Linked DNA regions of Homo sapiens. The protein of the gene in region 3 purifies or fractionates together with the protein of the main gene of each other region. This does not show direct contact. Each region holds a gene or a part of one and is shown on either strand. Other genes may lie near its edges.

Region 1 (3,500 bases), on a different chromosome or scaffold from region 3:
GATGGGTCTTGTTTTATCATCCAGGCTGAAGAGCAGTGGTATGATCATAGCTCACTGCATCCTTGAACTCCTGGGCTCAAGCCATCCTCCTGCATGCCACTTCACCTGGCTTATTTTTCAAAAATTTTTTGTAGAGATGGGGTCTCACTATGTTGACCAGGCTGGTCTTGAATTCCTGGCCTCAAGTGATCCTCCTGCCTGGGCCTCCTAAAGTGCTGGGATTATAGGTATGAGCCACTGTACCTCATGAGACTTTCTAAATAATGTGTATTTCTACAAGTTATTTTTAACCTACCATCAGATGTATGTGTGTATATATATGATATTTACATAAAACATGTATGCGTAGTATATGTATACATTAAAAAAATTATGGCTGGATGCAGTGGCTCACACTTGTAATCCCAGCACTTTGGGAGGCCGAGGTGGGCGGATCACTTGAAGCCAGAGTTCGAGACCAGCCTGGCCAAAATGGTGAAACCCGGTCTCTACTAAAAATACAAAAACTAGCTAGGCAGTGTGGCATGCACCTGTAATGCCAGTTATTTGGGGGGCTGAGGCAGGAGAATTGCTTAAATCTGGGAGGGAGAGGTTGCAGTGAGTCGGGATCAGACCACTGCACTACTCCAGCTTGGGCAATAGAGCCAGACTTCGTCTCAAAAAAAAAAAAAAAAAATTTATGCTGTCATAAAAAACTAGGCCTTTCATTTCCCAACTCTGAGTAATGCCTGGCTCAGGGATAGTGGTCATGGGGCGGGTACCTACACTTTGCTTTTCCAAGCTAAGTCAAGAGCATTAAGGACAAAAGTTAATACAAAGAAAATATGAATTCAGGCAGGGGTCCAGTGAAAATGAAGCCTGGCAGCTTCCTCTGTGCAAGGCAACAAGAACAGAAACTATGGAGAAACTGTCCAGTGGAGGCACAAGAATATGAAGACATCAGCTCCATCCTGGCAGGGAATTTTTGCCTGTTTTTGTAGTATCTTCAATAAGTATTTGTGGTTTGAATGACTGGAATGAGAACAACAGGAGATCAAGATTCAGTTATTGATCATCTTAGTGTGAAAGGGTTGATGAGGAAGAAGGAACAATGAGTACTTTCTTTATACTGTTCTGTGTATTTAACCCATATAACCCATGGGTATATATTACTTTTTAATTTAAAAAGACTAATTTTTTTTTTTTTTTTTTTGAGACACAGTTTCACTCTGTTACCCAGGCTGGAGTGCAGTGGCACAATCTCGGCTCACCACAACCTCCACGCCCTGGGTTCAAGCAATTCTCAATTCTCGTGCCTCAGCCTCCCAAGTAGCTGGGTCTATAGGCATGTGCCACCATGCCTGGCTTATTTTTGTATTATTAGTAGAGATGGGGTTTTGCCATGCTGGTCTCAAACTCCTGACCTCAAGTGATTTACCGGCCTTGGCCTCCCAAAGTGCTGGGACTACAGGCATGAGCCACTGCACCTGGCCTAAAAAAGACTAATTTAGATGTCAATGTAGATTTTTCTGGTGGGAAAAAAATGAAGGGAACATATGTACTTTCTGTCTTTAACCTTCTCTGTGGATTCAAGTTTGGCAAGATGATGCAAAGATGAAAACTGATGGAAAGCAGATGATAATATTTAGGGCTAACTTATTTCTTAGGAGATCTGATAATCTACAGACATTTACATTCATGTAGGAAACTCACAGGAAGGAAGTGAATATGGCTAATGTCACGATGTGAAAACCGGACCAGAACTCTGAAACTTCCTGTAGCCTCTTCTTTTAGAAACTAAAGATCTTATGCTCAGGGCTTTCAGAATCATGGCTGCTGGTTCTACCCACTTAATAATGAGAGCAGGGCAAAAGTTAGCTGTAAGGGCATAACATGCCTTAAGATGACATCTACAGACTTGCCTCTTTTTAGGATAGGCTACCTACCAGCTCTGCTTAGACTCCTAAATGTAATCAGATTTCATAGCAAACCATTATCTAGGCTGGACGTGGTGGCTCACACCTGTAATCCTAGCACTTTGGGAGGCCGAGACAGGCGGATCACTTGTGGTCAGGAGTTCAAGACCATCCTGGCCAATATGATGAAACCCTGTCTCTACAAAAAAATACAAAAATTAGCCGGGCGTGGTGGCAAGTGCCTGTAATCCCAGCTACTTGGGAGGCTGAGGCAGGAGAATCGCTTGAAACCAGGAGGTGGAGGCTGTAGTGAGCCAAGATTGCACCACTGCACTCCAGCCTGGGCGACAGGGCAAGACTCCCTCTCAAAACAAACAAACAAAAAAACACATTATCCAGTCAAAACATCATTCCTAAAGAAGACCCAGGGTCTATATCTGGTATTGGGTCTACTACACAGACACTAGATCTAAAGATCAACCACTGAGATGGAGATTTCCACAAGGCAGGAATTTCACTCTACAGCAAACACCACATCGAGATGGTATTAATTATTTATATTCTAGGCATTAAGTTGGTTTTCATGAGGGCAGGCCTAGATACAGACTAAGTAATACTGCCGGAGCTTCCCCAAGGCCAAGAAATCAGGTTACATATTGCTCTTCAAAGTATGCCGCTCTTGATATCTACAGTACTCCAACTTTATCTTGTTGAACTTTTGCCAGTAGAAATGACAAAATCAGGAAAAAAAAGTAAAGGTTAAGGAGAAGGCAGCAAAGGTAAGCACTGAGTTACCTGCACTGGCTCCAGATACTGCTTTGGAAATGGCACTGCTGGAAATTGCTCTGTTTCGCTTCATGATATCTTCAAATTCGGCTTCACTCACTGTAGAGGGTGGAGGGCCCGAATCTCGGCTGTACAGAGAAAATACCATCCTTGATTGCTCACATCCCTTATTATTTTTACTGTACTCTACAACACTTTGGTAATTTTGGCATAACACAGAACAATGCTAGACATCTGTAGCATTCATAACACCTGCTCCCGCATTTAATTAAGCACCTTAAAAAGGGGTATAAAGGACATGGTACTACTTCCCAGGAGTCAATGCTATGATAACAGAATGTCTATAAGGGAAAGAACAAGGATTCAGTGCTCACTTTCTCAGGGAGAATAAAATGCTTAATACACTTATTTACCCTGGCTCAAATCTGAAAGGAACAATAGTCCTTACCTGCCATGGTGGTTATAGGGGGCAGAGGCCTTCATGTAAGTATCTGGTGGAGGCCCCACTGTAGCGTTTGGTGGGGGGAAGAAGGCTGGATTGAGGTGAAGGGCAGGTGGGATGGCCCCAGGGGGAGGTACAGCAAGATGAGGAGGTAATCGAGGAGGTGGGGGCATGAGATGCTGGTAGTGGATACCAGGAGGAGGAGGAGGGACCCCAAAGCTTGAGGAGAGAGGTGGTGGGGGTGGAATTGGTGGTGGGGGCAGACCCATCAGGGGAAGGGCCGAAGGAGGACGATTGAAGTAGGGCAGCACACTGGGGGGCTTATCCACACGAGCAGATGAGGGTACAAGGTTCTCAGAGGGTGTGGCCCGTCCATC
Region 2 (3,500 bases), on a different chromosome or scaffold from region 3:
TACAAGCATGAGCCACCATGCCCGGCCTAGACTTAACAGTAATGGTATTATATCATATACATCCCTCTGTGATAGCAAGCTTTAACCATGGAAACACATTTTGCTCTAATTCATGCATTTTCACTGGTGTATAGTACTCTACTCATGAATATATTCAAACTGATCTACCCTTCTTCTATTTAGAATCACTGATGTTTTTCTGTTTTTTGGCTAGTGTGCTTTAACATTCTGTACACATGTAGAAGGGTTTCTCTACAGTTTCTGCTGAAGAGTAAAATTACTGGTCTCTACGCTATGCACTTTGCAAACTTTGTAAGATACTATAATGTCAATTTCTTTCCCAAAGCACTTGTCCCAATGTCCTCTCCCACCAGCAGTGTATAAGAGTCTCTATTCTAGCCTGGGCAATATAGCAAGACCCCAGTTTTACAAAAAATTAAAAAATTAGTCAGGCATATTGGCATACTTGTAGTCCCACCTGTTTGGGAGAGTGAGGCAGGAGGACTGCTTGACCCCAGGAGTTTGAGGCTACAGTGTGCCATGTTCGCACCACTGCACTCCAGCCTGGGCAACAGAACAAGATCCTGTCTCCAAAAAAAAAAAAAAGTGTCTATTGTTCTTTATCTTCTTGGTATTGCCAGACTTTTACATTTTTCTCAATTTGAAGGTGGTGAAATGGTATTTCATTACAGCATAAATTTGTATTTCCATCATTACTATAAGAGAGATTAGATATTTCCTCTATGTTTACTGGCCATTTAGTTAGGTACACCTTTTCATAAATTTTGCCCATTTTCTTTTTCTTTTTTTTTCTTTTTGAGACAGAGTCTTTCTCTGTTCCCCAAGCTGGGGTGCAGTGGCACGATCTTGGCTCACTACAACCTCTGCCTCCTGGGTTCAAGCGACTCTCATGCCTCAGCCTCCCAAGGAGCCGGGACCACAGGCATTTGCCACCACGCCCGGCTAATTTTTATACTTTTTAGTAGAGATGGGGTTTCACCATGTTGGCCAGGCTGGTCTCAAACTCCCAGCCTCAAGTGATCTGCCTACCTCGGCCTCCCAAAGTGGGGATTACAGGTGTGAGCCACCATGCCTGACCAGTTGTTGTCTTTTTCTTTTCTTCTCTTTTTTCTTTTTCTTTTCTTTTTTTTTTTTTGGAGGCAGAGTCTCCCTCTGTCCCCAGGCTGGAGTGCAGTGGCACGATCTCGGCTCACTACTACCTCCACCTCCCAGGTTCAAGCAATTCTCCTGCCTCAGCCTCCTGAGTAGCTGGGATTACAGGCGCCTGCCACCACACCCGGCTAATTTTTGTATTTTTAGTAGAGACGGGATTTTGCCATGTTGGTCAGGCTGGTCTTGAACTCCTGACCTCGGGTGATCCACCTGCCTCGGCTTCCCAAAGTGCTGGGATTACAGGCATGAGCCACCATGCCCAGCCGTCTTTTTCTTACTGATTTGTGAGAGATAAATAGTCTGGACACTGTCCTTCGTCAGTTGTCTTCTGGGCCTCAGGCTGATGTCAACCAGCCAGGACTTCAGTGTCCACCTCTATACTCTGAACCCATATATCCAACTGCCTGGTGGACAGTGCCACTTGATCATCCCACAGGTTCCTCAAACTCAATTTGTCCATAATAGGCCCGGCATCCACCACCATCAAACCTGCTGTTCCTCCTGGACTCCACACCAGTGCTCAATCCTGAAATCTGAGCACCAGCCTTGACTGCTACCACTCTTCACTTCCTTTCCACTCCTGGTCCAACCCAATACCAAATCTTGCCAGTTCCTCCTCCTAGTCTTCCATTACCACGTGCTACCCCCGACCCACCTCTCAAGGCTTATCTCTATCTGCTAATTCCCATAAAAATCTCTGAGTCCTGACCGGGCGCAGTGGCTCACGCCAGTAATCCCAGCACTTTGGGAGGCCAAGGCGGGCGGATCACAAGGTCAGGAGATCGAGACCATCCTGGCTAACGTGGTGAAACCCCGTGTCTACTAAAAACACAAAAAATTAGCCAGGCGTGGTGGCGGGCGCCTGTAGTCCCAGCTACTCGGGAGGCTGAGGCAGGAGAATGGCGTGAACCTGGGAGGCGGAGCTTGCAGTGAACCCAGATCGCGCCACTGCACTCCAGCCTGGGCGACAGAGCAAGACTCCATTTCAAAAAAAAAAAAAAAAAAAAAAAAAATCTCTGAGTCCCGCCATTTTGACTCTCAGGTCCCATAAAGTGCCAACTCGCCACACTTTCAACCCACTGGCTTTCACATGTCCTAGGCTCCAAGTCTGGAATATTCTTCCTTCATCTCCCCCAACGACTCCTCCTGGCTGAATCCTAGTCATCCTTCAGGTCTCTTAGATGCTTCTTCCTCTGGGAACGCTTCCCTAACCCCTCCAGCTAAGCAAGGCGCCCCTGTTCCTCTTTCCTATAGCCCCTGGTGCTCCTCACTCCCCTTCCGTCATACCTATCAGAGAAGGAGGGAATCACATCTGCCTCGCTCTCACCACTGCTTCCCCAACACGTGGTGCAGAATAAGCAGAGTCAACAAATACGGTTTTAATGAGCAAAAGGAGGCAGGAGACTGTTTCAGCAACATAAGGCCCAAAATAATAGGACCTTGAATTAAAGTAGAGGCAGTGGGAGGGACAGATGTGGGTGGATTAGGAAGATTAGGCAGACTTGATGGGATTTGGGAAGTAATTGGATGTGAGGGGTTAGGAACAGGGAGATTAAAGATTAAAGGATGAGAGAGACCCTGGCTTTTGGCTTGGATACCTGAGGTCACCAAAATGGCGGGCGAACAGGAGAGCACCGGAAGGCTGTACAGTGCCAACGTCGTCAGCGGGAGAGAGAATCAGCATAAGCCTCAAGGGAAAAGTTTCACAAAGACGAAAGAGCAATTGTGTGGCTACAGCATTTGGGAATGAGGACATTCCCCGTCCCCACCCTGAGAGATAAAGGGTACAGAGGATGCAAAGTGTCTCCTGGAGAGGGCAAGACGAGGAGTAAAGGCTTCCTGCAAGACCCACGGGGCAGGGCAAGTACTCAGGAAAGACGCTGGGGAGCTGGAAATGAGACTTGCAGAAAGTTCTGTGAAAAGGTGGAAAAGAAAGGAGAAAACCCGAGAAACTATATTGGGAAGAAGACTCAGTACACACAAGTATATGGAAATACCCAAATACACCCTTCCCCAATTTTCTGACCTATACAAATTTTATCTATTTAAGGCCGGGTGCAGTGGCTCACGCCTGTAATCCCAGCACTTTGAGAGGCCAAGGCGGGCGGATCACGAGGTCAGGAGATCGAGACCATCCTGGCTAACATGGTGAAACCCCGACTGTACTAAAAATACAAAAAATTAGCCTGGCGTGGTGGCAGTGGGTGCGTGTAGTCCCAGCTACTCGAGAGGCTGAGGCAGGAGAATGGCGTGAACCCGGGAGGCGGAGCTTGCAGTGAGCTGAGATCGCGCCACTGCACTCCAGCCTGGGGGACACAGCAAGACTC
Region 3 (3,500 bases):
GTGGTCACCATGAGCTTTCTGAATTTGAAGGGTTCTCTCTATTTTCTGAATTTGCTTTTTTAAGGGTTGGTTAGGTACACTTGCTATACCATATGTATGCACAGCAGCTTTAACTTCCACATCCCAATCCACACATTCTTCCATCAGACCAGAAGGAATGGGATCTACATAAAAAGGAAGAAAAATGTATTAAAATTCTCAAGCTACTCTAGACCACTGTTTTCTGAATGATTTCATAAAGTTTTCTATGATCAAATACATTTAAGAAACAATATGCAAATATACTAAGATGTTTAATAGATATAACATTTTTAAAGACTGAAGCAATCCTGTAATAAAGAAACCTGCCTAAGAAATATGTAAGACCCATCCCATACTCACAAGCACTATCTCCCCTCACTCTCACTAGAAAAAGAGCTTACTCTAGGAGTAATGTACAAGCCTGCAACAATTCTCCCATCTTTTCTCTCCTCCCTCTCCACAGCCCCTCCCCTTTATCTCAATACTTCTGACAGCAAAACAAGATATTAGAAAATGGATTGTGCTCCCCAAAGCTTATCAACTAGGAAATAATACAACTGCAACTCTGTACACCCAACTAAATCTGTCACCCAATATTCCAACAGGGAGAAATCACTGCCCTTAACAATAAAGAGAAAACCTCTATAGGGGAAAAAACTAGATGACTATGAAAAGATCTGTGACTATGAAAATCAGAAATGACATTTCTAATTTTTAAAAAATTTGCTGGCTTCAACCCTCTAAATTTTCTATTCCATCCAGGTGTGACAATTTGCTTCCCACACTCAGACCTTTCAAAGTGTGATCAATTTTTGTCTTAGGCAGACAAGATATATCAAGCCCCTGCTTTACAAAGATCTTGCCTGTTGTTGCTATTTATGCTCCATGTTATCTATAAATCCCACAGGTCTGGATACTTCAATGAAGTCTCTTGATCCTTTGCTGAACAGATTCTATGATTAAAACTCTCATTCCTACTCAGTTGATATCCCTTGCTTGCCTAGTCCTATAATACAGGCCAATTTCCCTCCTAGTTCTGCCCCAGGAAACTCATCTGAACATCTGTTGTTACACAAGTTCCCAGTCCAATACAGACCTAACAGCATGAATATCATTTTCTCATGATTTCAGGGCCCTATTAACATTACATAAAGATCCAAATATATCATTTTCCAGTATCCAAAGGCAATTTTTATCACTAGATGCTATGATATTGAATCCTACAAGAAGTCTTAACCCTCTTCTACCAATTTTCAATTTTTTTCCCATATCAGACTACGAATAGACTTATACACAGAAAGAACTGACAGTTTTAGAACTGACATAGAGCCTAAAGACCATTTACTCTAAAGTACTTTGCAAATCAGGACTCTAAGCTTACAGCAATTACAGAGATTTGTAAAAGATCATAAAATGAGTTATTACTAACCCGATCTACTAGAATACATAGAACTCCCAGATCTGTGCTTAATCTAGCTCTGTAAAATAATTAAATATAAAGTCGGTAAAATACTCAATTATATTTATTCAATAACTACATATCCTATATTCTGCAAAGTCATGTATATACTATATGTGTATTTTTCTTTTTTTTTTTTGAGACTGAGTCTCGCACTTTCGCCCAGGCTGGAGTGCAATGGCGGATCTTGGCTCACTGCAAGCTCCACCTCCCAGGTTCATGCCATTCTCCGGCCTCAGCCTTCCAAGTAGCTGGGACTACAGACACCCACCACCATGCCCGGCTAATTTTCTGTATTTTTTTTTAGTAGAGACAGGGTTTCACTGTGTTAGCCAGGATGGTCTTGATCTCCTGACCTCGTCATCCGCCCGCCTCAGCCTCCCAAAGTGCTGGCATTACAGGCGTGACCTATATGTGTATTTTTCTATATAGACATACATCTATATATGAATAGACACTATTTATAGTGCACATTTTCTGTATAACATGCACGTCAAAAATGCCATATTTCCACTCAAGGGTTTTTTAGAATTTTTTGTTTTTAAGAGATCATTACTAGTTTTAAACATGCGTTGTTTCCAAGAGGGCACTTAAAAAGAAGCAGAACAAATGACTGAACTGAAATCAAAAGAAAACATTTCACTCCAATTTTTCAAAATAGTATTCAAATTAAAGATGCTGTTCTTTCCACATGGTGACAAAGGAGAATATGGCAAGAATTACCTTCACAACAATTTAAGAGGTAAAATATCCCCCCTTGTATCAAAGAATAAAATCAAATTGCAAAGCCACTAACTAATAAAATAGAGCTAACATAGCTCTCATTTTTCTTTCTTTTTTTTTTTTTTGAGACGGAGTTTCACTCTTGTTGCCCAGGTTGGAGTGCAATGGCTTGATTTCAGCTCACTGCAACCTCCACCTCCTGGGTTCAAGCGATTCTCCTGCCTCAGCCTCCCAAGTAGTTGGGATTACAGGCACCTGCCACCACGCCCAGCTAATTTTTGTATTTTTAGTAGAGAAGAGGTTTCACCACATTGACCAGGCTCGTCTTGAACTCCTGACCTCATGTGATCCACCTGTCCTGGCCTCCCAAAGTGCTGGGATTACAGGCGTGAGCCACTGCGCCTAGCCAGCTCTCATTTTTCATGTGCCAGTGGTTAGCTTGCACTCCTCTCCGTGCTACTTACTAGCTGTAACACCTTTACTTACCCTCTCTATGTCTAAATATCCTCATCTACAAAACAATTGCACACACCTCATAGGAGTGTGGTGAGAAGTAAATGAGTTAACGTACATACAGGACTGGGAACAGTACCCAGCACATCATAAGCACTCTGTTAGCTATTATTATCATTTTTATTATGCTTATCACCACTATAATTATTTTGAAATAATGAAACAGATGAAATGTACCTGGTAAAGGGAGAAGGTTGATATTACATTTCTGGGCAATTCTCATCATCATATTTTCTTCCTCTCCCCGGCAACAGTAGGTCACTGTCAGCCCCAATGTACCTAAAAGCAGAGAGAATGTTAGGTAGTAAATCATTTTCACAAAAATAATATTCAAAGCCCACCTGTCACATTATAGATCCCTCCCCTTAAAGAAAGCACTCAAACTTTTTTTTTTTTTTTTACCAAAACGGCCAGCTCTCCCAATCCGATGCATGTATGTCTCCCAATCCAATGGTACATCCAGATTTACAACCAGATTCACCTTCTCAGCATCAATCCCACGAGAAGTCTTGAATTGAAGAAGATAGCAATTATTTGTTTGCATTAACTATACAGCATGGATACCAATGCATATTATATTCTTCCAGTACAGTCAAGAGACAAATTAAGAACTGAATACTGAGGAGCAGAGGAAAAGGAAATTCATTCCTAATGACTAATTTCAAGGACAAAGATAAACATATTAAAGACATTTTTAAGAAAGTATTTTCCTCAGCACTGGAAAGATAATTATCTTCTGGTATTCTTGTTAGATACGCCTACATAAAATAATATATGAAATCTG
Region 4 (3,500 bases), on a different chromosome or scaffold from region 3:
TTGCTCATAGACACACCTTGATGGCGAGCGTGATGTCCGCATAGGCACAGAAGCCCCCGCCACGGTCGCTGGAGCAGTGGTGGAAGCCACCCCCTGCGGAAGGGCAGAGAGCGGTGCTGCTCAGAGCCAGGCTCCCAGGCTCAGTCCAGGAGCTCCTCCATCCCTTCACCTCCCCCAGCATCCTCCCTGCTCAGCTCTCAGGAACCTGTGCCTCGGACTCTGGGTTGGCAAACTAAGCTGAGTGCTGGGGCATGTCACCATCCCCAGGCCAGAAGGCAGCCACATCTTCAGGGTGTCCCCAGCAAGTCCTCAGTGCCACTCACACCCCTAAGCAACAGATAGCTCATCATTCCAGAAGCAGAAAGCTGCTCCTTGTCCCCACCAAGCTGGGCCTGGCTCCATGTGGCTCCCCACTCCAGGAAGGAGTGGTGGTATGGGGGCCACACGGATTCTGCCAGTGGCCAAAGCGGGTGGTCAGGAAGGGCACCCTCTGCTGGTCATGACTGCCTACAGCCACGAGGAGGGCCCTAGAGCCCGGGATCCATCACCCCTCAACCCTGAGACACAGCCTCAGAGCCCTAGGGCCCATAGATACCCCCTCCCCTGCAGCCCCTGGGATGGCCTGAATTGCAGAGGCCCTCTGAAATTGAGCCCAACAACTGCTCCGTCAGACAGTGTGCAGCTGGCCCCATGGATACCAGGAACTTGCCTCTCCCACCCCCCAGGAGGCTACTGTTGGCTCCTAATGATGAGAAGACAGCCACAGTGAACACCTGACTGAGCAACTGAGCTTGCTGAAGACTCCCTCCAGCCCGAGGAGGGGCATTAGCATCACCATCCCCATTTTACAGATGAGGAGACTGACCCACAGAGGAGGTCAGCAACTTGCCCAGGGTCACACAGCCAGGTAATGGCAGAACCAGGATCAAACCCAGGGTGGATCAGGATCCAGGCTCTTAACCTCTACCAGGCAGTAACACCTGCCATGGGGAGGGCCATCCAGGCCCTCCTCGGAACCCTGCTGTAGACACGCAGGGCACAGATCACTCCCGGGTTTGTGCAGCAGAGTACCATAACATCATTACTATGCCAGACTGAATGCTAGGCACCTGGTAATACCAAGATGGAAGAGACCCAGCCCCTGCAGAGTGGGGCTCCCCTCAACTGTGCAGTGGCCCAAGGTGGACTCTCCCCTGCAGAGTTCAGAGCCAAAGGCTGGGGGACCCTGCTTTAGGGCTCTACACGATCCAGTACGCATCTTTCCATGGCCATTTCCTCATCAGTGAGACAGGCCTGACAATTATGCCCAGCTCAAATAAGAGTCTGGGTGAAGGCCGGGCGTGGTGGCTCATGTCTGTAATCTTAGCACTTTGGGAGGCCGAGCGAGGTGGGCGTATCACCTGAGGTCGGGAGTTCAAGACCCAGCCTGACCAACATGGAGAAACCCTGTCTCTACTAAAAATACAAAATTAGCCGGGCATGGTGGTGCATGCCTGTAATCTCAGCTACTCAGGAGGCTGAGGCAGGAGAATTGTTTGAACCTGGGAGGCGGAGGTTGCGGTGAGCCGAGATCGCGCCATTGCACTCCAGCCTGGGCAACAAGAGTGAAACTACGTCTCGAAAAAGAAAAAAAGAGCCTGGTGAAAAAGAGCTTTGTAAATTGTCAAGTGCTGTGCCTCCAGGAGGGACAATGACAGGGACAAGGGAGACTCCCGTGCAGCCCTCCCATGAGCCAATCTTGTGGGAGATTCAAGGGGGCTGGGGAGCACGGGCCCTCTGGACCCTTGAGAAGGTGGTGGTATTGACCCAGGATGTGCCCACCCAACCCAACATGACCAAGCCTCTGTGGGCTGTCCTGGGCCCCAGGACACAGGTGGAGTCCTTCAGGGAAGACACAAGGCAGGCTTCAGACCATGCTGAGCTGCCCAAGGATGGCACACGCTCTCTGGAAGGGAGGAAGCTCCCTGCCACCGGAAGTACGCAAAGAGGGGGCTGGGGAACCACCCGGGGACCTCCTTAGACAAGGATCCCACGTCAGATGGAGGCACTGGTCAGTCTCTCCCAGGTACCTAGGAGGCTACACATCAACCTCCAGGCCACTCCACAAGGAGGCTAGGGTGACTTGGGAAAACCAGAGCTTCTGAATTCACAGCTGCCACCTCCAGGATCCTCCCGCCCTCCCCCAGCCCCCTTTCAGGCCAGTTCCACCAAGCCGGGCTGGACATTCCCGAGGACATTCCCAGCACTCACCCACGTTGATGGCCCAGCCTCGCTCCACAGCCAGCTTCCCCGCCTTTGGAGACAAGCAGAGGGTGAGGGGGCGCAGGCAGCCGATCCACCAGTCATTCATTCACTGATTCATGCACTCATTCCATAAACACTGCTTCTAGCCAGCTCTGGGGGAAGGATGAGCTGAGCTACAAGGCAGGGGTATAGAAGGAACTCCCTACCCCAAGCAACAGTCCAGGAAGTAAGTGCCAGCTTGGCTGGCATATGAGATGTACAGTGCATAAGCACCTTTGAAATTGTGCAAGGAAACTGGAAAAAATAAAAGTACTTATCATCCATCACATATGAGCTGACAATAATTTTGATATGGCTTTCAAAGGGAAAATAGGCAAAGTTTTGCTCACAGAAATACAGTAGACTGGGCCAGGCGCAGTGGCTCACGCCTGTAATCCCAGCACTTTGGGAGGCCGAGGCAGGCGGATCACTTGAGGTCAGGAGTTCAAGACCAGCCTCGCCAACATGGTGAAACCCCGTCTCTACTAAAAATACAAAAATTAGCCAGGCAGAGTGGCGTGTGCCTGTAATCCCAGCTACTCGGGAGGCTGAGGCAGGAGAATCACTTGAACCCAGGAGGCAGAGGTTGCAGTGAGCCAAGGTCACACCCCTGCACTCCAGCCTGGAGGACAGAGTGAGACTCTGTCTCAAAAAAAAAAAAAAAAAAAGCAAAAAAAGAAATATAGTAGACTAAATACTGAAATCTTCCAGGAAATCATAGTTTTGGGGATGGGCAGTAATATTCTACTAAGCTAAAGGAAAAAGTACAAATTTACAAACATAACAGAACTGTAGGGGATCAGTAGGTAGTGATCCAGGGCTGGGTTAGATCCTCATACATTTGCATGTGAAACATTCCTCTATCTCCAAATAACTAGGCAGTGTGTGGCACATTTTTTTAAAAAAACCACACACACAATGTGAAACCTAATTTTGCTGTGGGGATTCTTTGTTGCCACACCCGCAGTGGGGGAGACGTGGAGGCTTATTCATCACTGAAGTCATGGAGGATCAGTTCTCCATCTTAATTTTGGGTGCATTAGGGCTGGGCATGGTGGCTCAAAGCCTGTAATCCCAGTACTTTGGGAGGCCAAGGTGAGTGGATCATTTGAGGTCAGGAGTTCAAGACCAGCCTGGCCAACATGGTAAAACCCCGTCTCTACTAAAAATACAAAAATTAGCCAGGCATGGTGGCGAACACCTGTAGTCCCAGCTAC
Region 5 (3,500 bases), on a different chromosome or scaffold from region 3:
TGGCACAATCACAGCTCACTCCAGCCTTGACCTCCCTGGCTCAAGCGATCCCCCTAGCTCAACCCACTGAGTAGCTGGGACTACAGGCACGCACTACGCACCCCCAATCTCTCTCTCTTTCTCGTGCGTACACAGTCTCACTCTTTCCCAAGTTTGCAACGCAAAATTCTGTAGAAAGTTTATTTTTGGTCAGGTCTTAGAAGTCTGGATATATAGAGTATTTGGCATTGACAGTAGACAAATGAAAAATCTCTCCTGCTTTGTTTCTAGTGACATAAAGGAGAACAACAGTCCTGCACTTCAGTTTGGATAACTAAATTGGTTCCTCCTGAAGCCACCTTATCCCTCTGTCATGGATTGGCTTATAAATGATGGCTGTGATAAATTAATAAAAGATTCTTAGAAGAAAATGACTTAGCAGACTAGCAGGAGTTTATGTCAGATTAACGGTGTGAGAATAACTCGGAGTTGGAAGCGACACGAAGCAGTGACTTTGGAAAAGACCATGAGAATTCTGGTCTGACCATCATCATTTACCTCTCTTCTAGCAGTATTTTAAAGTCCTTTGTACATTTGCTAGCTAAGGGTGTGTATGGGTGTGTGGGTGTGTGTGTGTGTGTGTGCGCGCGTGCGCGCGCGTGTATATGTGTTATAGGCCATATTAAATCAAGCATTCAAGCATTGTAAACAATTTTCAGGTCATTATAACTAGTTGTGTGAACCTGATGAATAACTTTTTCTTTAAGTTCCAAATTTCCTCATTCATAAAATGAGGTTAAGATAGTTAACTTGTAGATTTATTTCAGGACTAAGTCCCAATAACTCAATTTCTTAGAAACTGATCACATGCTTGCATTATTTCTTTTCCTACACATACATATATACTGCCCCCTGCCCTATGATGTATGTTTATACAAAGAGTGGAAAGACTATTTTTTTCTAACTTGGAAAAAAACAGGGACATTACTTCTTTCCCACACCTCCAAAAATAGAAAGGGCAAGCAGGTATCTTAGCAACAGTCTCTTACTCTAATTAAATAGATGGCAAATTCAGGTCTTTCAATTGGTCTTTCTCAAACGTGTACCTTTAATTTTTTTCTTCCAAAGATTTAATAAGGTGTAATTCCAGGAAGCATTGCTCTCCTTGTATCCTTGTGTGATCAAAAGTACGACACTAGCACCACCTATCAGAGCAAACCGCCAAGGCAAAAATGAGCTCCCCATTCTGAATCAGAGTGCACATTCTCTTTCCAGCCGTCTCTGTGGCAAGCTCCAAATGGATATGAGTCAGGTTTCTATGACCAAATATGACAAAAAAGCATATGCCTTATCTTTGGAGAAAGTTACTCTTCCAATCCCCTTCTCTATTGCCACATCCTTCCAGATCCAGGTCATTTTCAGCTCCACTCTTCCTTCTCCTGCTACATGTAAATTATACCATCACAGCCTGATTTTAAAATAACTGTTCTCAATCATGCCCTTCTTTAAAGACCTAAAACTTGCCTCTTACAGTAACTCTTGTTTTCCTTAGAAAGAAATATTTAATAGGAATGTAGGAACAGAAGCCACGTCTGCGTCTCAGGTGGCGGCAAAACAAGATGGTGGATCCCCGTGCCATGACCCCCAGATGCAGGGCTTATATGCTACAGGGAAAGGGTGATTCAGAAGGGATGTGTAGGACAATTGAAGTAAGATAACGTCAAGGTTGTTCTCATGTAAGGACAGGAATTACAGTAAGTACATGCTCTTACACAAGAAACAACAGATAAATTGGAAATCTTAGAGGCCTTCCCAGAACTGGGTTTAATCAGAAGTCAACATGGTGGACTGGCATTCAAGATGGAGTTGCTTTAGCCTCCACAACTACCTATTCAAAGATTTAAGGACAAAACTGTATCTACATATATATCTCCAAATATACAAAGTTATTAGCTCATTAGGGCAAAGGCAGCTCCCCAGATTCCATAACCTATTAAGGGCCCAGAGAAATGAAACCACAAACTGTAACAGTCACCTTATGAGTCTGCAATGGAAAAATATTTTCTCTTTTCTCTGAAAATAGTTTTAGTTGCCATTCTATAGAAGGGTGCCATGACAGATTGAAAGTACAATGTTTGAATCAGTGACCCGGCAAAGGCACATCAGTGTCTTCCCTATTGTGATGCTATGTCAAACTGGCCTAAACACACACACACACACACACACACACACACACACAGCAGTGTGGTGCAGAAATCATCTGAGACTATTCCTTAGTTGCACTGGAGACAGCTGACTGGAAACAGCTGCAATGAGCTGAGAAAAGTGACAAGGCTGAATTTTAAGCTTGGCCTTTTCTGAAGCCTAAGTACCGCTGTTCTCGGTTTTATGTAAGTCATACTCATGCCCTTTTGGCAACCTCTGTGTAACAGAGATGCTGTTCAAATTTGAGAGTTCATTTTACTGCTGTACACAGGGCTCAGATGTTCTTGATTTTGCCTATTTTCTTGCTCTTTATTTGCAGGAAGTGAAGTCAAAGTTATCCAAAGAATATCACTTTATTAAAATGAAAACATCAAGACACCATATTGTGGGAAATTATTTCAGCAATCAAAGTAAACTACAACAACAGGACTCAAACAAATTTTCAATCATGGTATCACGTCAGAGGCCCAATAAATCAGGTTTGTTTTGAAATCCTTCTCAGCAGGATGTGTGCGAGTAAAAGGACTGTGTAGGCTCCCTGCAGGAAAACTGAATTTGGAACTGGAGACAAGCCATTCACCTAGACAATGGTCTAGGAGCCAAACCCTGCATGTCATATGCATTTTGGATTGACCACACACACTTGTTCACACCGGCACAGGCTGCACACCAACACACCTGTAGCTAAAACAAAGTAATGATAACACTTTTTCTTACAGCTTTATAATGTCAAGACGTGAGCTTGAACACACCAGTTCATTTCACAGTGACAGATATACCTAGAAAAAGCTTGCTTGAAGCACAATTATAAACCAGAACCACCGTGGGCTAGGTATGGTGCTGCGATACTAAGGAGAAATATAGACACTAGAATTATGTGGAAAAGAGGATAATGCTCTTTAGTCTTGTCTTACCATCTCTATAGGCATGTCAATATTAAAAAGGAGGAAAAGCAATTGCATTCCACTTGCAAGTACAGCTTGTGTGTGAGTTCTTTGTTGGTATCAGTGATGGCTTAGGCTTAATGATGACGAAAAACCTTTCCTCCTATGCTTTTTTTCTTCTTTAGTATTCCCAGTATTGCAACAGCCTCCTATACTTTTATTATTACTTTTTTTTGAGACCTCGTATCACCTCTGTAGAGGTCTCTATGATGTCCCTATGATCTCGGCTCACTGCAGCTTCCACTTACAGGGTTCAAGCGATTCTCGTGCCTCATCCTCCTGAACAGCTGGAACTAGAGGCAGATGCTGCCATGCCCAACTAATTTTTGTATTTTTAGTAGAGACAGGGTTTCACCACGTTGGCCAGGCTGG
Region 6 (3,500 bases), on a different chromosome or scaffold from region 3:
GGAGTGCAGTGGTGCCATCTTGGCTCACTGCAACCTCTGCCTCAGCCTCAGGGTTCAAGCAATTCTCCTGCCTCAGCCTCCCAAGTAGCTGGGATTATAGGCATGTGCCACCACACCCAGCTAATTTTGTATTTTTTGTAAAGACGGGGTTTCTCCACGTTAGTCAGACTGGTCTCGAACTCCCAACCTCAGGTGATCCACCCACCTCGGCCTCCCAAAATGCTGGGATTATAGGTGTGAGCCACCACACCCAGCTGAATTCTTGATCTGTTGAGAGTGTGAGCTTTGACACTGGAAGAATTACTTAGGCTACCTATGTTTCTAACCTCTCAGTGACAAAATGAAAACGATAGTACCTATCTTGTACATTCTTGAGAGAATCAGCTGGCATAGTGCATGTAAGGTTCTTAGGATTGTGCTTATTATAATCATAATAAGCCATCAGTAAATATTAGCTGTTTCTATTTTTTGTTCTGAGGCAGGGAGTCTATGAGGGAAAGGTCCTATCCCATTTTAAAGCTCCAGACATCTCTGGAATTATGTGAGCCTTAGCTTTTAGGCGTAATAATTGAAAGTATATATGTCTGTTATTTATTTTGACAATAGTGGACTGCCTTTATCATCTTTTGCATTCAGACCTGCATTCATCGTGCTGCATGTGCATTTTGAAATCTGCTATAATCCAATAAGACAAATAAGCCAATTATGAGAGTTTAGATGGAAACTTGAGGTTACCATCTCCTTCTGTGACCCAAGATTAGGAATATTTACATGTCAGTGATTCCAAGATTAAATATTGAAGATTTAGAAAACCAAAAGTTACTAGAATCAGATTTTTATTCTAGCTGGTGACTAAGGTAGATTTCTTCAACTTTGTACAACAAACAAAGAGGATAATTTTACTTGTTTCTCATCAGGTTACAGGAACCAAAGAAAGACCTGATAGCCCGAGTAGTGAGGATTATTGGTAACAAAAAGGCAATTGAACTTCTGATGGAAACCGCTGAAGTTGAACAAAATGGTGGTCTCTTTATAATGGTAAGACTGCTTAACTGTTTTTGTTTTTGTATTGTTTATCCTGTGTTTTTGTTTTTGATTACAAATTTAACTTTGCCCTTGTTGGATCTGTGATTTATCATGCATTCTTACAGTATGTTTGAAGTTTTTAAACTATTATCAACAATGAAGACTGTTAAAAAAAAATTAGTTGCCAGGCACGGTGGCTCAAGCCTGTATTCCTAGCACTTTGGGAGGCTGAGGCGGGCCGATCACCTGAGATCGGGAGTTCGAGACCAGCCTGACCAACATGGAGAAACCCTGTCTCTACTAAAAATACAAAATTAGCCAAGCGTGGTGGCACATACCTGTAATCGCAGCTACTCAGGAGGCTGAGGCAGGAGAATCACTTGAACCTGAGAGACCAGAGGTTTCAGTGAGCTGAGATCGCACCCTTGCACTCCATCCTGGGCAACAGGAGCGAAACTCCGTCTCAAAAAAAAAAAGAATAAAAAGAAAAAAAAATTAGTACAGTTGTTTTTGCAGTTAGTACTTCCCTGACAAAAAAACAAACAAACAAACATAAATTATAGCCTGTTGCCGTATAGTCACCAAAACATTTCTTACATGATTTGTTAAAGGTAGGGGTTGAATTTTTTTTTTTTTTTTTTTTTTTGAGAAGGAGTCTCGCTCTGTCGCCCAGACTGGAGTGCAGTGGCGCAATCTCGGCTCACTGCAACCTCCGCCTCCCGAGTTCAAGCAATTCTCCTGCCTCAGCCCCCCAAGTAGCTGAGATCACAGGCATGCACCACCACACCCGGCTAACGTTTGTATTTTTAGTAGAGACGGGGTTTCACCATGTTGCCCAGGCTGGTCTCAAACTCCTGACCTTAGGCAATCCACCCAGCTCGGCCTCCCAAAGTGCTGGGATTACAGGCGTGAGCCACTGCACCCGGCCAAAGGGTTGAAGTTTTAAGACGACAAAGTCTAGGGGAGCCTAGGAGCTCAGATCTTGAGAATATGGGTTTTAGAGTTTGGGTACCCTTTTTTACTTCTAGATTTTCAACATACTAATTGAAATTCGGCTAAGTTGTTTGACTTCTTGGAGCCTCAGTCTCCTCAGCTGTAAAATGGAGATTAGTCCTACATTTTAAGGATTAGAGGAGATGGTGCACATGAAATACTGACCACAGTGCCCAGCACTTTAGCAATGGTAAACAGAAGTGTTCATTTTGGTTCACTTAATTCATGCATTCTTGAAAAAGAGGGCAAAAAAAAAAAACAAAACACCCTTTTTTTTGTTTGTTTGTTTTTTGAGACGGAATCTCACTCTGTCGCCCAGGCTGGAGTGCAGTGGCACGATCTCAGCTCACTGAAACCTCCATCTCCCGAGTTCAAGCAATTCCCCTGCCTCAGCCTCCCAAGTATGCTGGGACTATAGCCTGCCACCACGCCCAGCTAGTTTTTGTATTTTAGTAGAGGCAGGCTTTCACCATGTTGCCTAGGCTGGTTGAGAACTCCTGAGCTCAGGCAATCCGCCTGCCTCGGCCTCCCAAAGTGCTGGGATTACAGGCTTGAGCCACTGTGCCCGGTCAACACTTTTGTTATGTAAGCACAGATAGATACACAATAAAGTACAAATAGGTATACAGTATTTTTGTGTGTATTAAAATTTCCTGGGTATAAGAATGAAAGTTGGGGGAAGTCTAAAAAGTTCCTGGGGTGGTAGAGCAATAATGGGAGAAAAGTTTGAGAAGCTCTTTACTGTTTCAGAATGACAGAAAGAGCTCCTCTGGCTAGGCCAGATCACGAGCACTGGCGGTTATAGAAGGGTTTGGCATATCTCATTGAATTCAGCTTTCACCACAGGGTGAGGATGAAGGTTTGAATGACTTCCTTGTTTTTTGTTACTGATAAGTCTGAATACTGTAATAACATCACAAGGGAGTAGATCAATATTGTGCTTTGGACATGGGGAGAAAAAAAACCCAGTTAGGATTAATAGCATTGGCTAAGGAAACAGCCTGTGAACATAAATTACAGAAGTCAAAACAGAAGTTAGCAACAAAAGAAATTATAATAATCATGAATGCACTGCCATCCCTATTTGTGTCATTGTTAAAGTACTTCAATTTTCATTCAGTTGAACACAGAGTTACAGATTTCATCAATATTTTAGTACTGTAGTGATAAAACTTTATATTCCAGTGAGCTAATGCAGATTTACTGAATATTGGGAAGATGCAAGTTCAAATTTACTTTCTTATTTTATTTTATTTTTTGAGACACAGTCTGGCTCTCTTGCCCAGGCTGGAGTACAGTGGCGCGATCTCAGCTCACTGTATCCTCCACCTCCCAGGCTCAAGCCATCCCCCACCTCAGCCTTCTGAGTAGCTGGGATTGCAGGTGCGTGCCACCGCGCTTGGCTAATTTTTTGTGTTTTTAGTAGAGATGGAGTTTTACCATGTTGCCCAGGCTGGTTTTGAACTTGTGAGCTCAAGGAA
Region 7 (3,500 bases), on a different chromosome or scaffold from region 3:
AAGAACAAAGCTGGAAAAATCACACTACCCCACTTCAAACTATACTACAAAGCTACACTAACCAAAACAGCCTATTACAGACATGGAGCAATGGAACAGGATAGAGAACCCAAAACTAAAGCCACACACCTACAACCATCTGATCTTTGACAAAATTGACAGTAACAAGCAATGGAGAAAGGACTACCTATCCAATAAATGGTGCTGGGATAACTGGATAGCCTTATGCAGAAGAATGAAACTGGGCCCTTACCTTTTACCATATACAAAAATTAACTCAAGATGGATTAAAGACATAAATATAAGACCTAAAACTATAAAAAGCCGAGAAGAGGCTGGGCATGGTGGCTTACGCCTGTAATCCCAGCACTTTGGGAGGTCAAGGTGGGAGGATCACGAGGTCAGGAGATCGAGACCATCCTGGCCAACATGGTGAAACCCTGTCTCTACTAAAAATACAAAAATTATCTGGGTGTGGTGGTGTGCATCTGTAGTCCCAGCTACTTGGGAGGCTGAAGCAGGAGAATCGCTTGAATCCGGGAGGCAGAGGTTGCAGTGAGCCAATCGCACCATTGCACTCACTCCAGCCTGGGTGACAGGGCCAGACTCCTACTCAAAAAAAAAAAAAAAAAAAAAAAAAATCCTCGAAGAAAATCTAGGAGATATCATCCTGGACATTGGCCTTGGCAAAGAATTTATGACTAAGTGCCCAAAAGCAATTGTGACAAAAACAAAAATTGACAAGTGGGACCTAATTATACTAAAGAGCTTCTGCACAGCAAAAGAAACTATCAACAGAGTAAACAAACAACTTATAACCTGGGAGAAAACATCTGCAAACCATGCATCTGACAAAGGTCTAATATTCAGAATCTGTAAGGAACTTAATTCAACAGGCAAAAACCAAAAACTCTTAAAAAATGGGCAAAGGACATGAACAGACACTTCTCCAAACAATACATATACATAGGCAAGAAATATATGGAAAAATGTTCCACACCACTAAATCATCTGACAAATGCAAGTCAAAACCACAGTGAAATACCATCTCCCACCAGTCAGAATGACTATTATTAAAAAGACAAAACAAACAAACAAAAAACAGATGTTAGAGAGGTTATAGAGAAAAGGGAATGCTATATACTGTTGGTGGGAATGTAATTTTAGTTCAGTCACTGTAGAGAGCAGTTGGGATATCTCTCAAAGAACTTAAAACAGAACTACCATTCGACCCAGCAGTCTCACTACTGTATTTTTTCAACAAATATTTGTCATGCAGCTAATACAGACTTAATTTATTTTTTTTAATTTTTTTTTTGAGACAGAGTCTCACTGTGTTGCCCAGGCTGGACTGCAGTGGCGTGATCTCGGCTCACTGCAACCTCTGCCTCCTGGGTTCAAGCTATTCTCCTGCCTCAGCCTCCCAAGTAGCTGGGACTACAGGTGCCCGCCACCACGCCCGGCTAATTTTTGTATTTGTAGTAGAGACGGGGTTTCACCATATTGGCCAGGCTGGTCTCGAACTCCTGACCTTGTAATCTGCCCGCCTCGGCCTCCCAAAGTGCTAAGATTATAGGCATGAGCCACCGCACCCGGCCCTACAGACGTGATTTTATGATATAACCTTACCTTCATGAAGCTTAAAACATTCCTAAAACAGAACTCCCCCAACTATGACTTTTTTTTTTTTTTTTTTTTTTAGATGGAATCTCGCTCTGTCGCCAGGCTGGAGTGCAGTGGCGCGATCTTGGCTCACTGCAACCTCCAACTCCCTGGTTCAAGTGATTCTCCTGCCTCAGCTTCCCAAGTAGCTGGGATTACAGGCACAGGTGCCACCATGCCCAGCTAATTTTTGTATTTTTAGTAGAGACGGGGTTTCACCATGTTGGCCAGGATGGTCTTGATCTCCTCACCTCGTGATCTGCCCGCCTCAGCCTCCCAAAGTGCTGGGATTACAGGCTTGAGCCACTGCGTCCAGTAACTATGACTATTTATTGTAAGACTAAAATAATCCATGCTAATAGTCATTTCAATTATAATGTTTTTAATGAAATAAGGGAAAATAAAGAAAAATAAATCATTCTATCAAAAAGCCATATGCACTTGCATATTCACTGGAGCACTATTCACAACTGCAAAGATGTGGAGTCAACCTAGGTGTCCATCAATAGTGGACTGGATAAAGAAAATGCAGTACATATATGCCATGGAATACTATGTCGACATGAAAAAGAATAAAATCATGCCCTTTGCAGCAACATAGATGCAGCTGGTAGCCATTATCCTAAGCGAATTAATATAGGAACAGAAAACCAAATACTGCATTTCCTCACTTACAAGTGGGAGCTAAACAATGAGTAAGCACGGACCTAAAGATGGGAGCAGTCAACACTGGGGACAACAACGGGGGGAAGGTGGGAGAGGGGGCGAGAGTTAAGAAACTACCCATCAGGTACCATCCTCACTACCTGGGTGATGGTTATACATCAAACCTTAGCAACAGGCAATTTACCCATGTAACAACTTGCACATGTAACCTTCTAAAACTTTAAAGTTATGGGGAAAAAATATTGTTTAGAGAAATGTTTATTTTCATAAACACATTTGCTTATGAAACAATACTAATTTACGTTTAATCGTTTATAAAAATATAAAAGCAAAAAAATTAAAGGACACTAGTGTAATACAGCTTGCAGTATTTTTTCACAATTCTTTTTTTTAAGTATTCAGTAACTACTTAACTGACAGGAAAAAATAAAGAACAGGAATGGCAATTAAAATGCTAACTCTAATCAATCAATCATTTATCCAACAAATATTTGTCAAGCACCTAATATTGATTTAATTTTATGATATAATCTTACCTTGAAATTTAAAACATAGTTGTACCTTCCTAAAACAGAATTTCCCTAACTGTAAGACAAATAATTCATGCTAATAGTCAATTCACTTATGTTTTAGATGAAATAAAAATATTATTGTTTTAGATTACAAAAGTCATTTTTTTTTTTTTTTGAGACGGAGTCTCACTCCATTGCCCAGGCTAGAGTGCAGTGGTGCGATCTTGGCTCATTGTAACCTCCACCTCGTGGGTTCAAGTGATTCTCCTGCCTCAGCCTCCCTAGTAGCTGGGATTACAGGCACCTGCCACCATGTCCAGCTAATTTTTGTATTTTTAGCAGAGACAGGGTTTCGTCATGTTGGCCAGGCTGGTCTCAAACTCCTGACCTCAGGTGATCCACCCGCCTCAGCCTACCAAAGTGCTGGGATTACAGGCGTGAGCCACCAGGCCTGGCCCAGAAATTTGTTTTAAATTTAACTCTGTTACTGAGAAGACTTTATTAAAACAGCAAAAGCAAATCTTATCTTCATATGACCTAAATTATTATAATCTATAAAAAGAGATGTGGGAACATTAAAAAATCAAACACAAGTCTCTTTGTAGACAAATCCAATGAATCCATTTCCATTATAGTTACCTTAAGTCAGCCAAGTAATAT

The links.
Region 1: the proteins of DDX20 (region 3) and CPSF7 purify together in Homo sapiens (affinity purification with mass spectrometry; one large-scale study listed by BioGRID and IntAct). This does not show direct contact.
Region 2: the proteins of DDX20 (region 3) and WRAP53 purify together in Homo sapiens (co-immunoprecipitation; one study listed by IntAct). This does not show direct contact.
Region 4: the proteins of DDX20 (region 3) and HDAC11 purify together in Homo sapiens (affinity purification with western blotting; one study listed by BioGRID and IntAct). This does not show direct contact.
Region 5: the proteins of DDX20 (region 3) and LSM11 purify together in Homo sapiens (affinity purification with mass spectrometry; 2 studies listed by BioGRID and IntAct, with this or other methods). This does not show direct contact.
Region 6: the proteins of DDX20 (region 3) and PHAX purify together in Homo sapiens (affinity purification with mass spectrometry; 2 studies listed by BioGRID and IntAct, with this or other methods). This does not show direct contact.
Region 7: the proteins of DDX20 (region 3) and USO1 purify together in Homo sapiens (affinity purification with mass spectrometry; 2 studies listed by BioGRID and IntAct, with this or other methods). This does not show direct contact.

Annotation. Positions count from the first base shown.
Region 1 is NC_000011.10:61,412,976-61,416,475, forward strand, and holds part of CPSF7 (cleavage and polyadenylation specificity factor subunit 7), read right to left. Parts: coding exon 3,130-3,500; intron 2,810-3,129; coding exon 2,691-2,809; intron 1-2,690.
Region 2 is NC_000017.11:7,694,977-7,698,476, reverse strand, and holds part of WRAP53 (telomerase Cajal body protein 1), read right to left. Parts: intron 1-3,500. UniProt on the Homo sapiens protein: RNA chaperone that plays a key role in telomere maintenance and RNA localization to Cajal bodies. Specifically recognizes and binds the Cajal body box (CAB box) present in both small Cajal body RNAs (scaRNAs) and telomerase RNA template component (TERC).
Region 3 is NC_000001.11:111,762,401-111,765,900, reverse strand, and holds part of DDX20 (probable ATP-dependent RNA helicase DDX20), read right to left. Parts: intron 3,225-3,500; coding exon 3,119-3,224; intron 2,996-3,118; coding exon 2,894-2,995; intron 165-2,893; coding exon 1-164.
Region 4 is NC_000003.12:13,497,306-13,500,805, reverse strand, and holds part of HDAC11 (histone deacetylase 11), read right to left. Parts: intron 2,294-3,500; coding exon 2,251-2,293; intron 94-2,250; coding exon 17-93; intron 1-16. UniProt on the Homo sapiens protein: Responsible for the deacetylation of lysine residues on the N-terminal part of the core histones (H2A, H2B, H3 and H4).
Region 5 is NC_000005.10:157,746,712-157,750,211, reverse strand, and holds part of LSM11 (U7 snRNA-associated Sm-like protein LSm11), read right to left. Parts: intron 1-3,500. UniProt on the Homo sapiens protein: Component of the U7 snRNP complex that is involved in the histone 3'-end pre-mRNA processing. Increases U7 snRNA levels but not histone 3'-end pre-mRNA processing activity, when overexpressed. Required for cell cycle progression from G1 to S phases.
Region 6 is NC_000005.10:126,607,447-126,610,946, forward strand, and holds part of PHAX (phosphorylated adapter RNA export protein), read left to right. Parts: intron 1-917; coding exon 918-1,038; intron 1,039-3,500. UniProt on the Homo sapiens protein: A phosphoprotein adapter involved in the XPO1-mediated U snRNA export from the nucleus.
Region 7 is NC_000004.12:75,731,077-75,734,576, reverse strand, and holds part of USO1 (general vesicular transport factor p115), read right to left. Parts: intron 1-3,500. UniProt on the Homo sapiens protein: General vesicular transport factor required for intercisternal transport in the Golgi stack; it is required for transcytotic fusion and/or subsequent binding of the vesicles to the target membrane.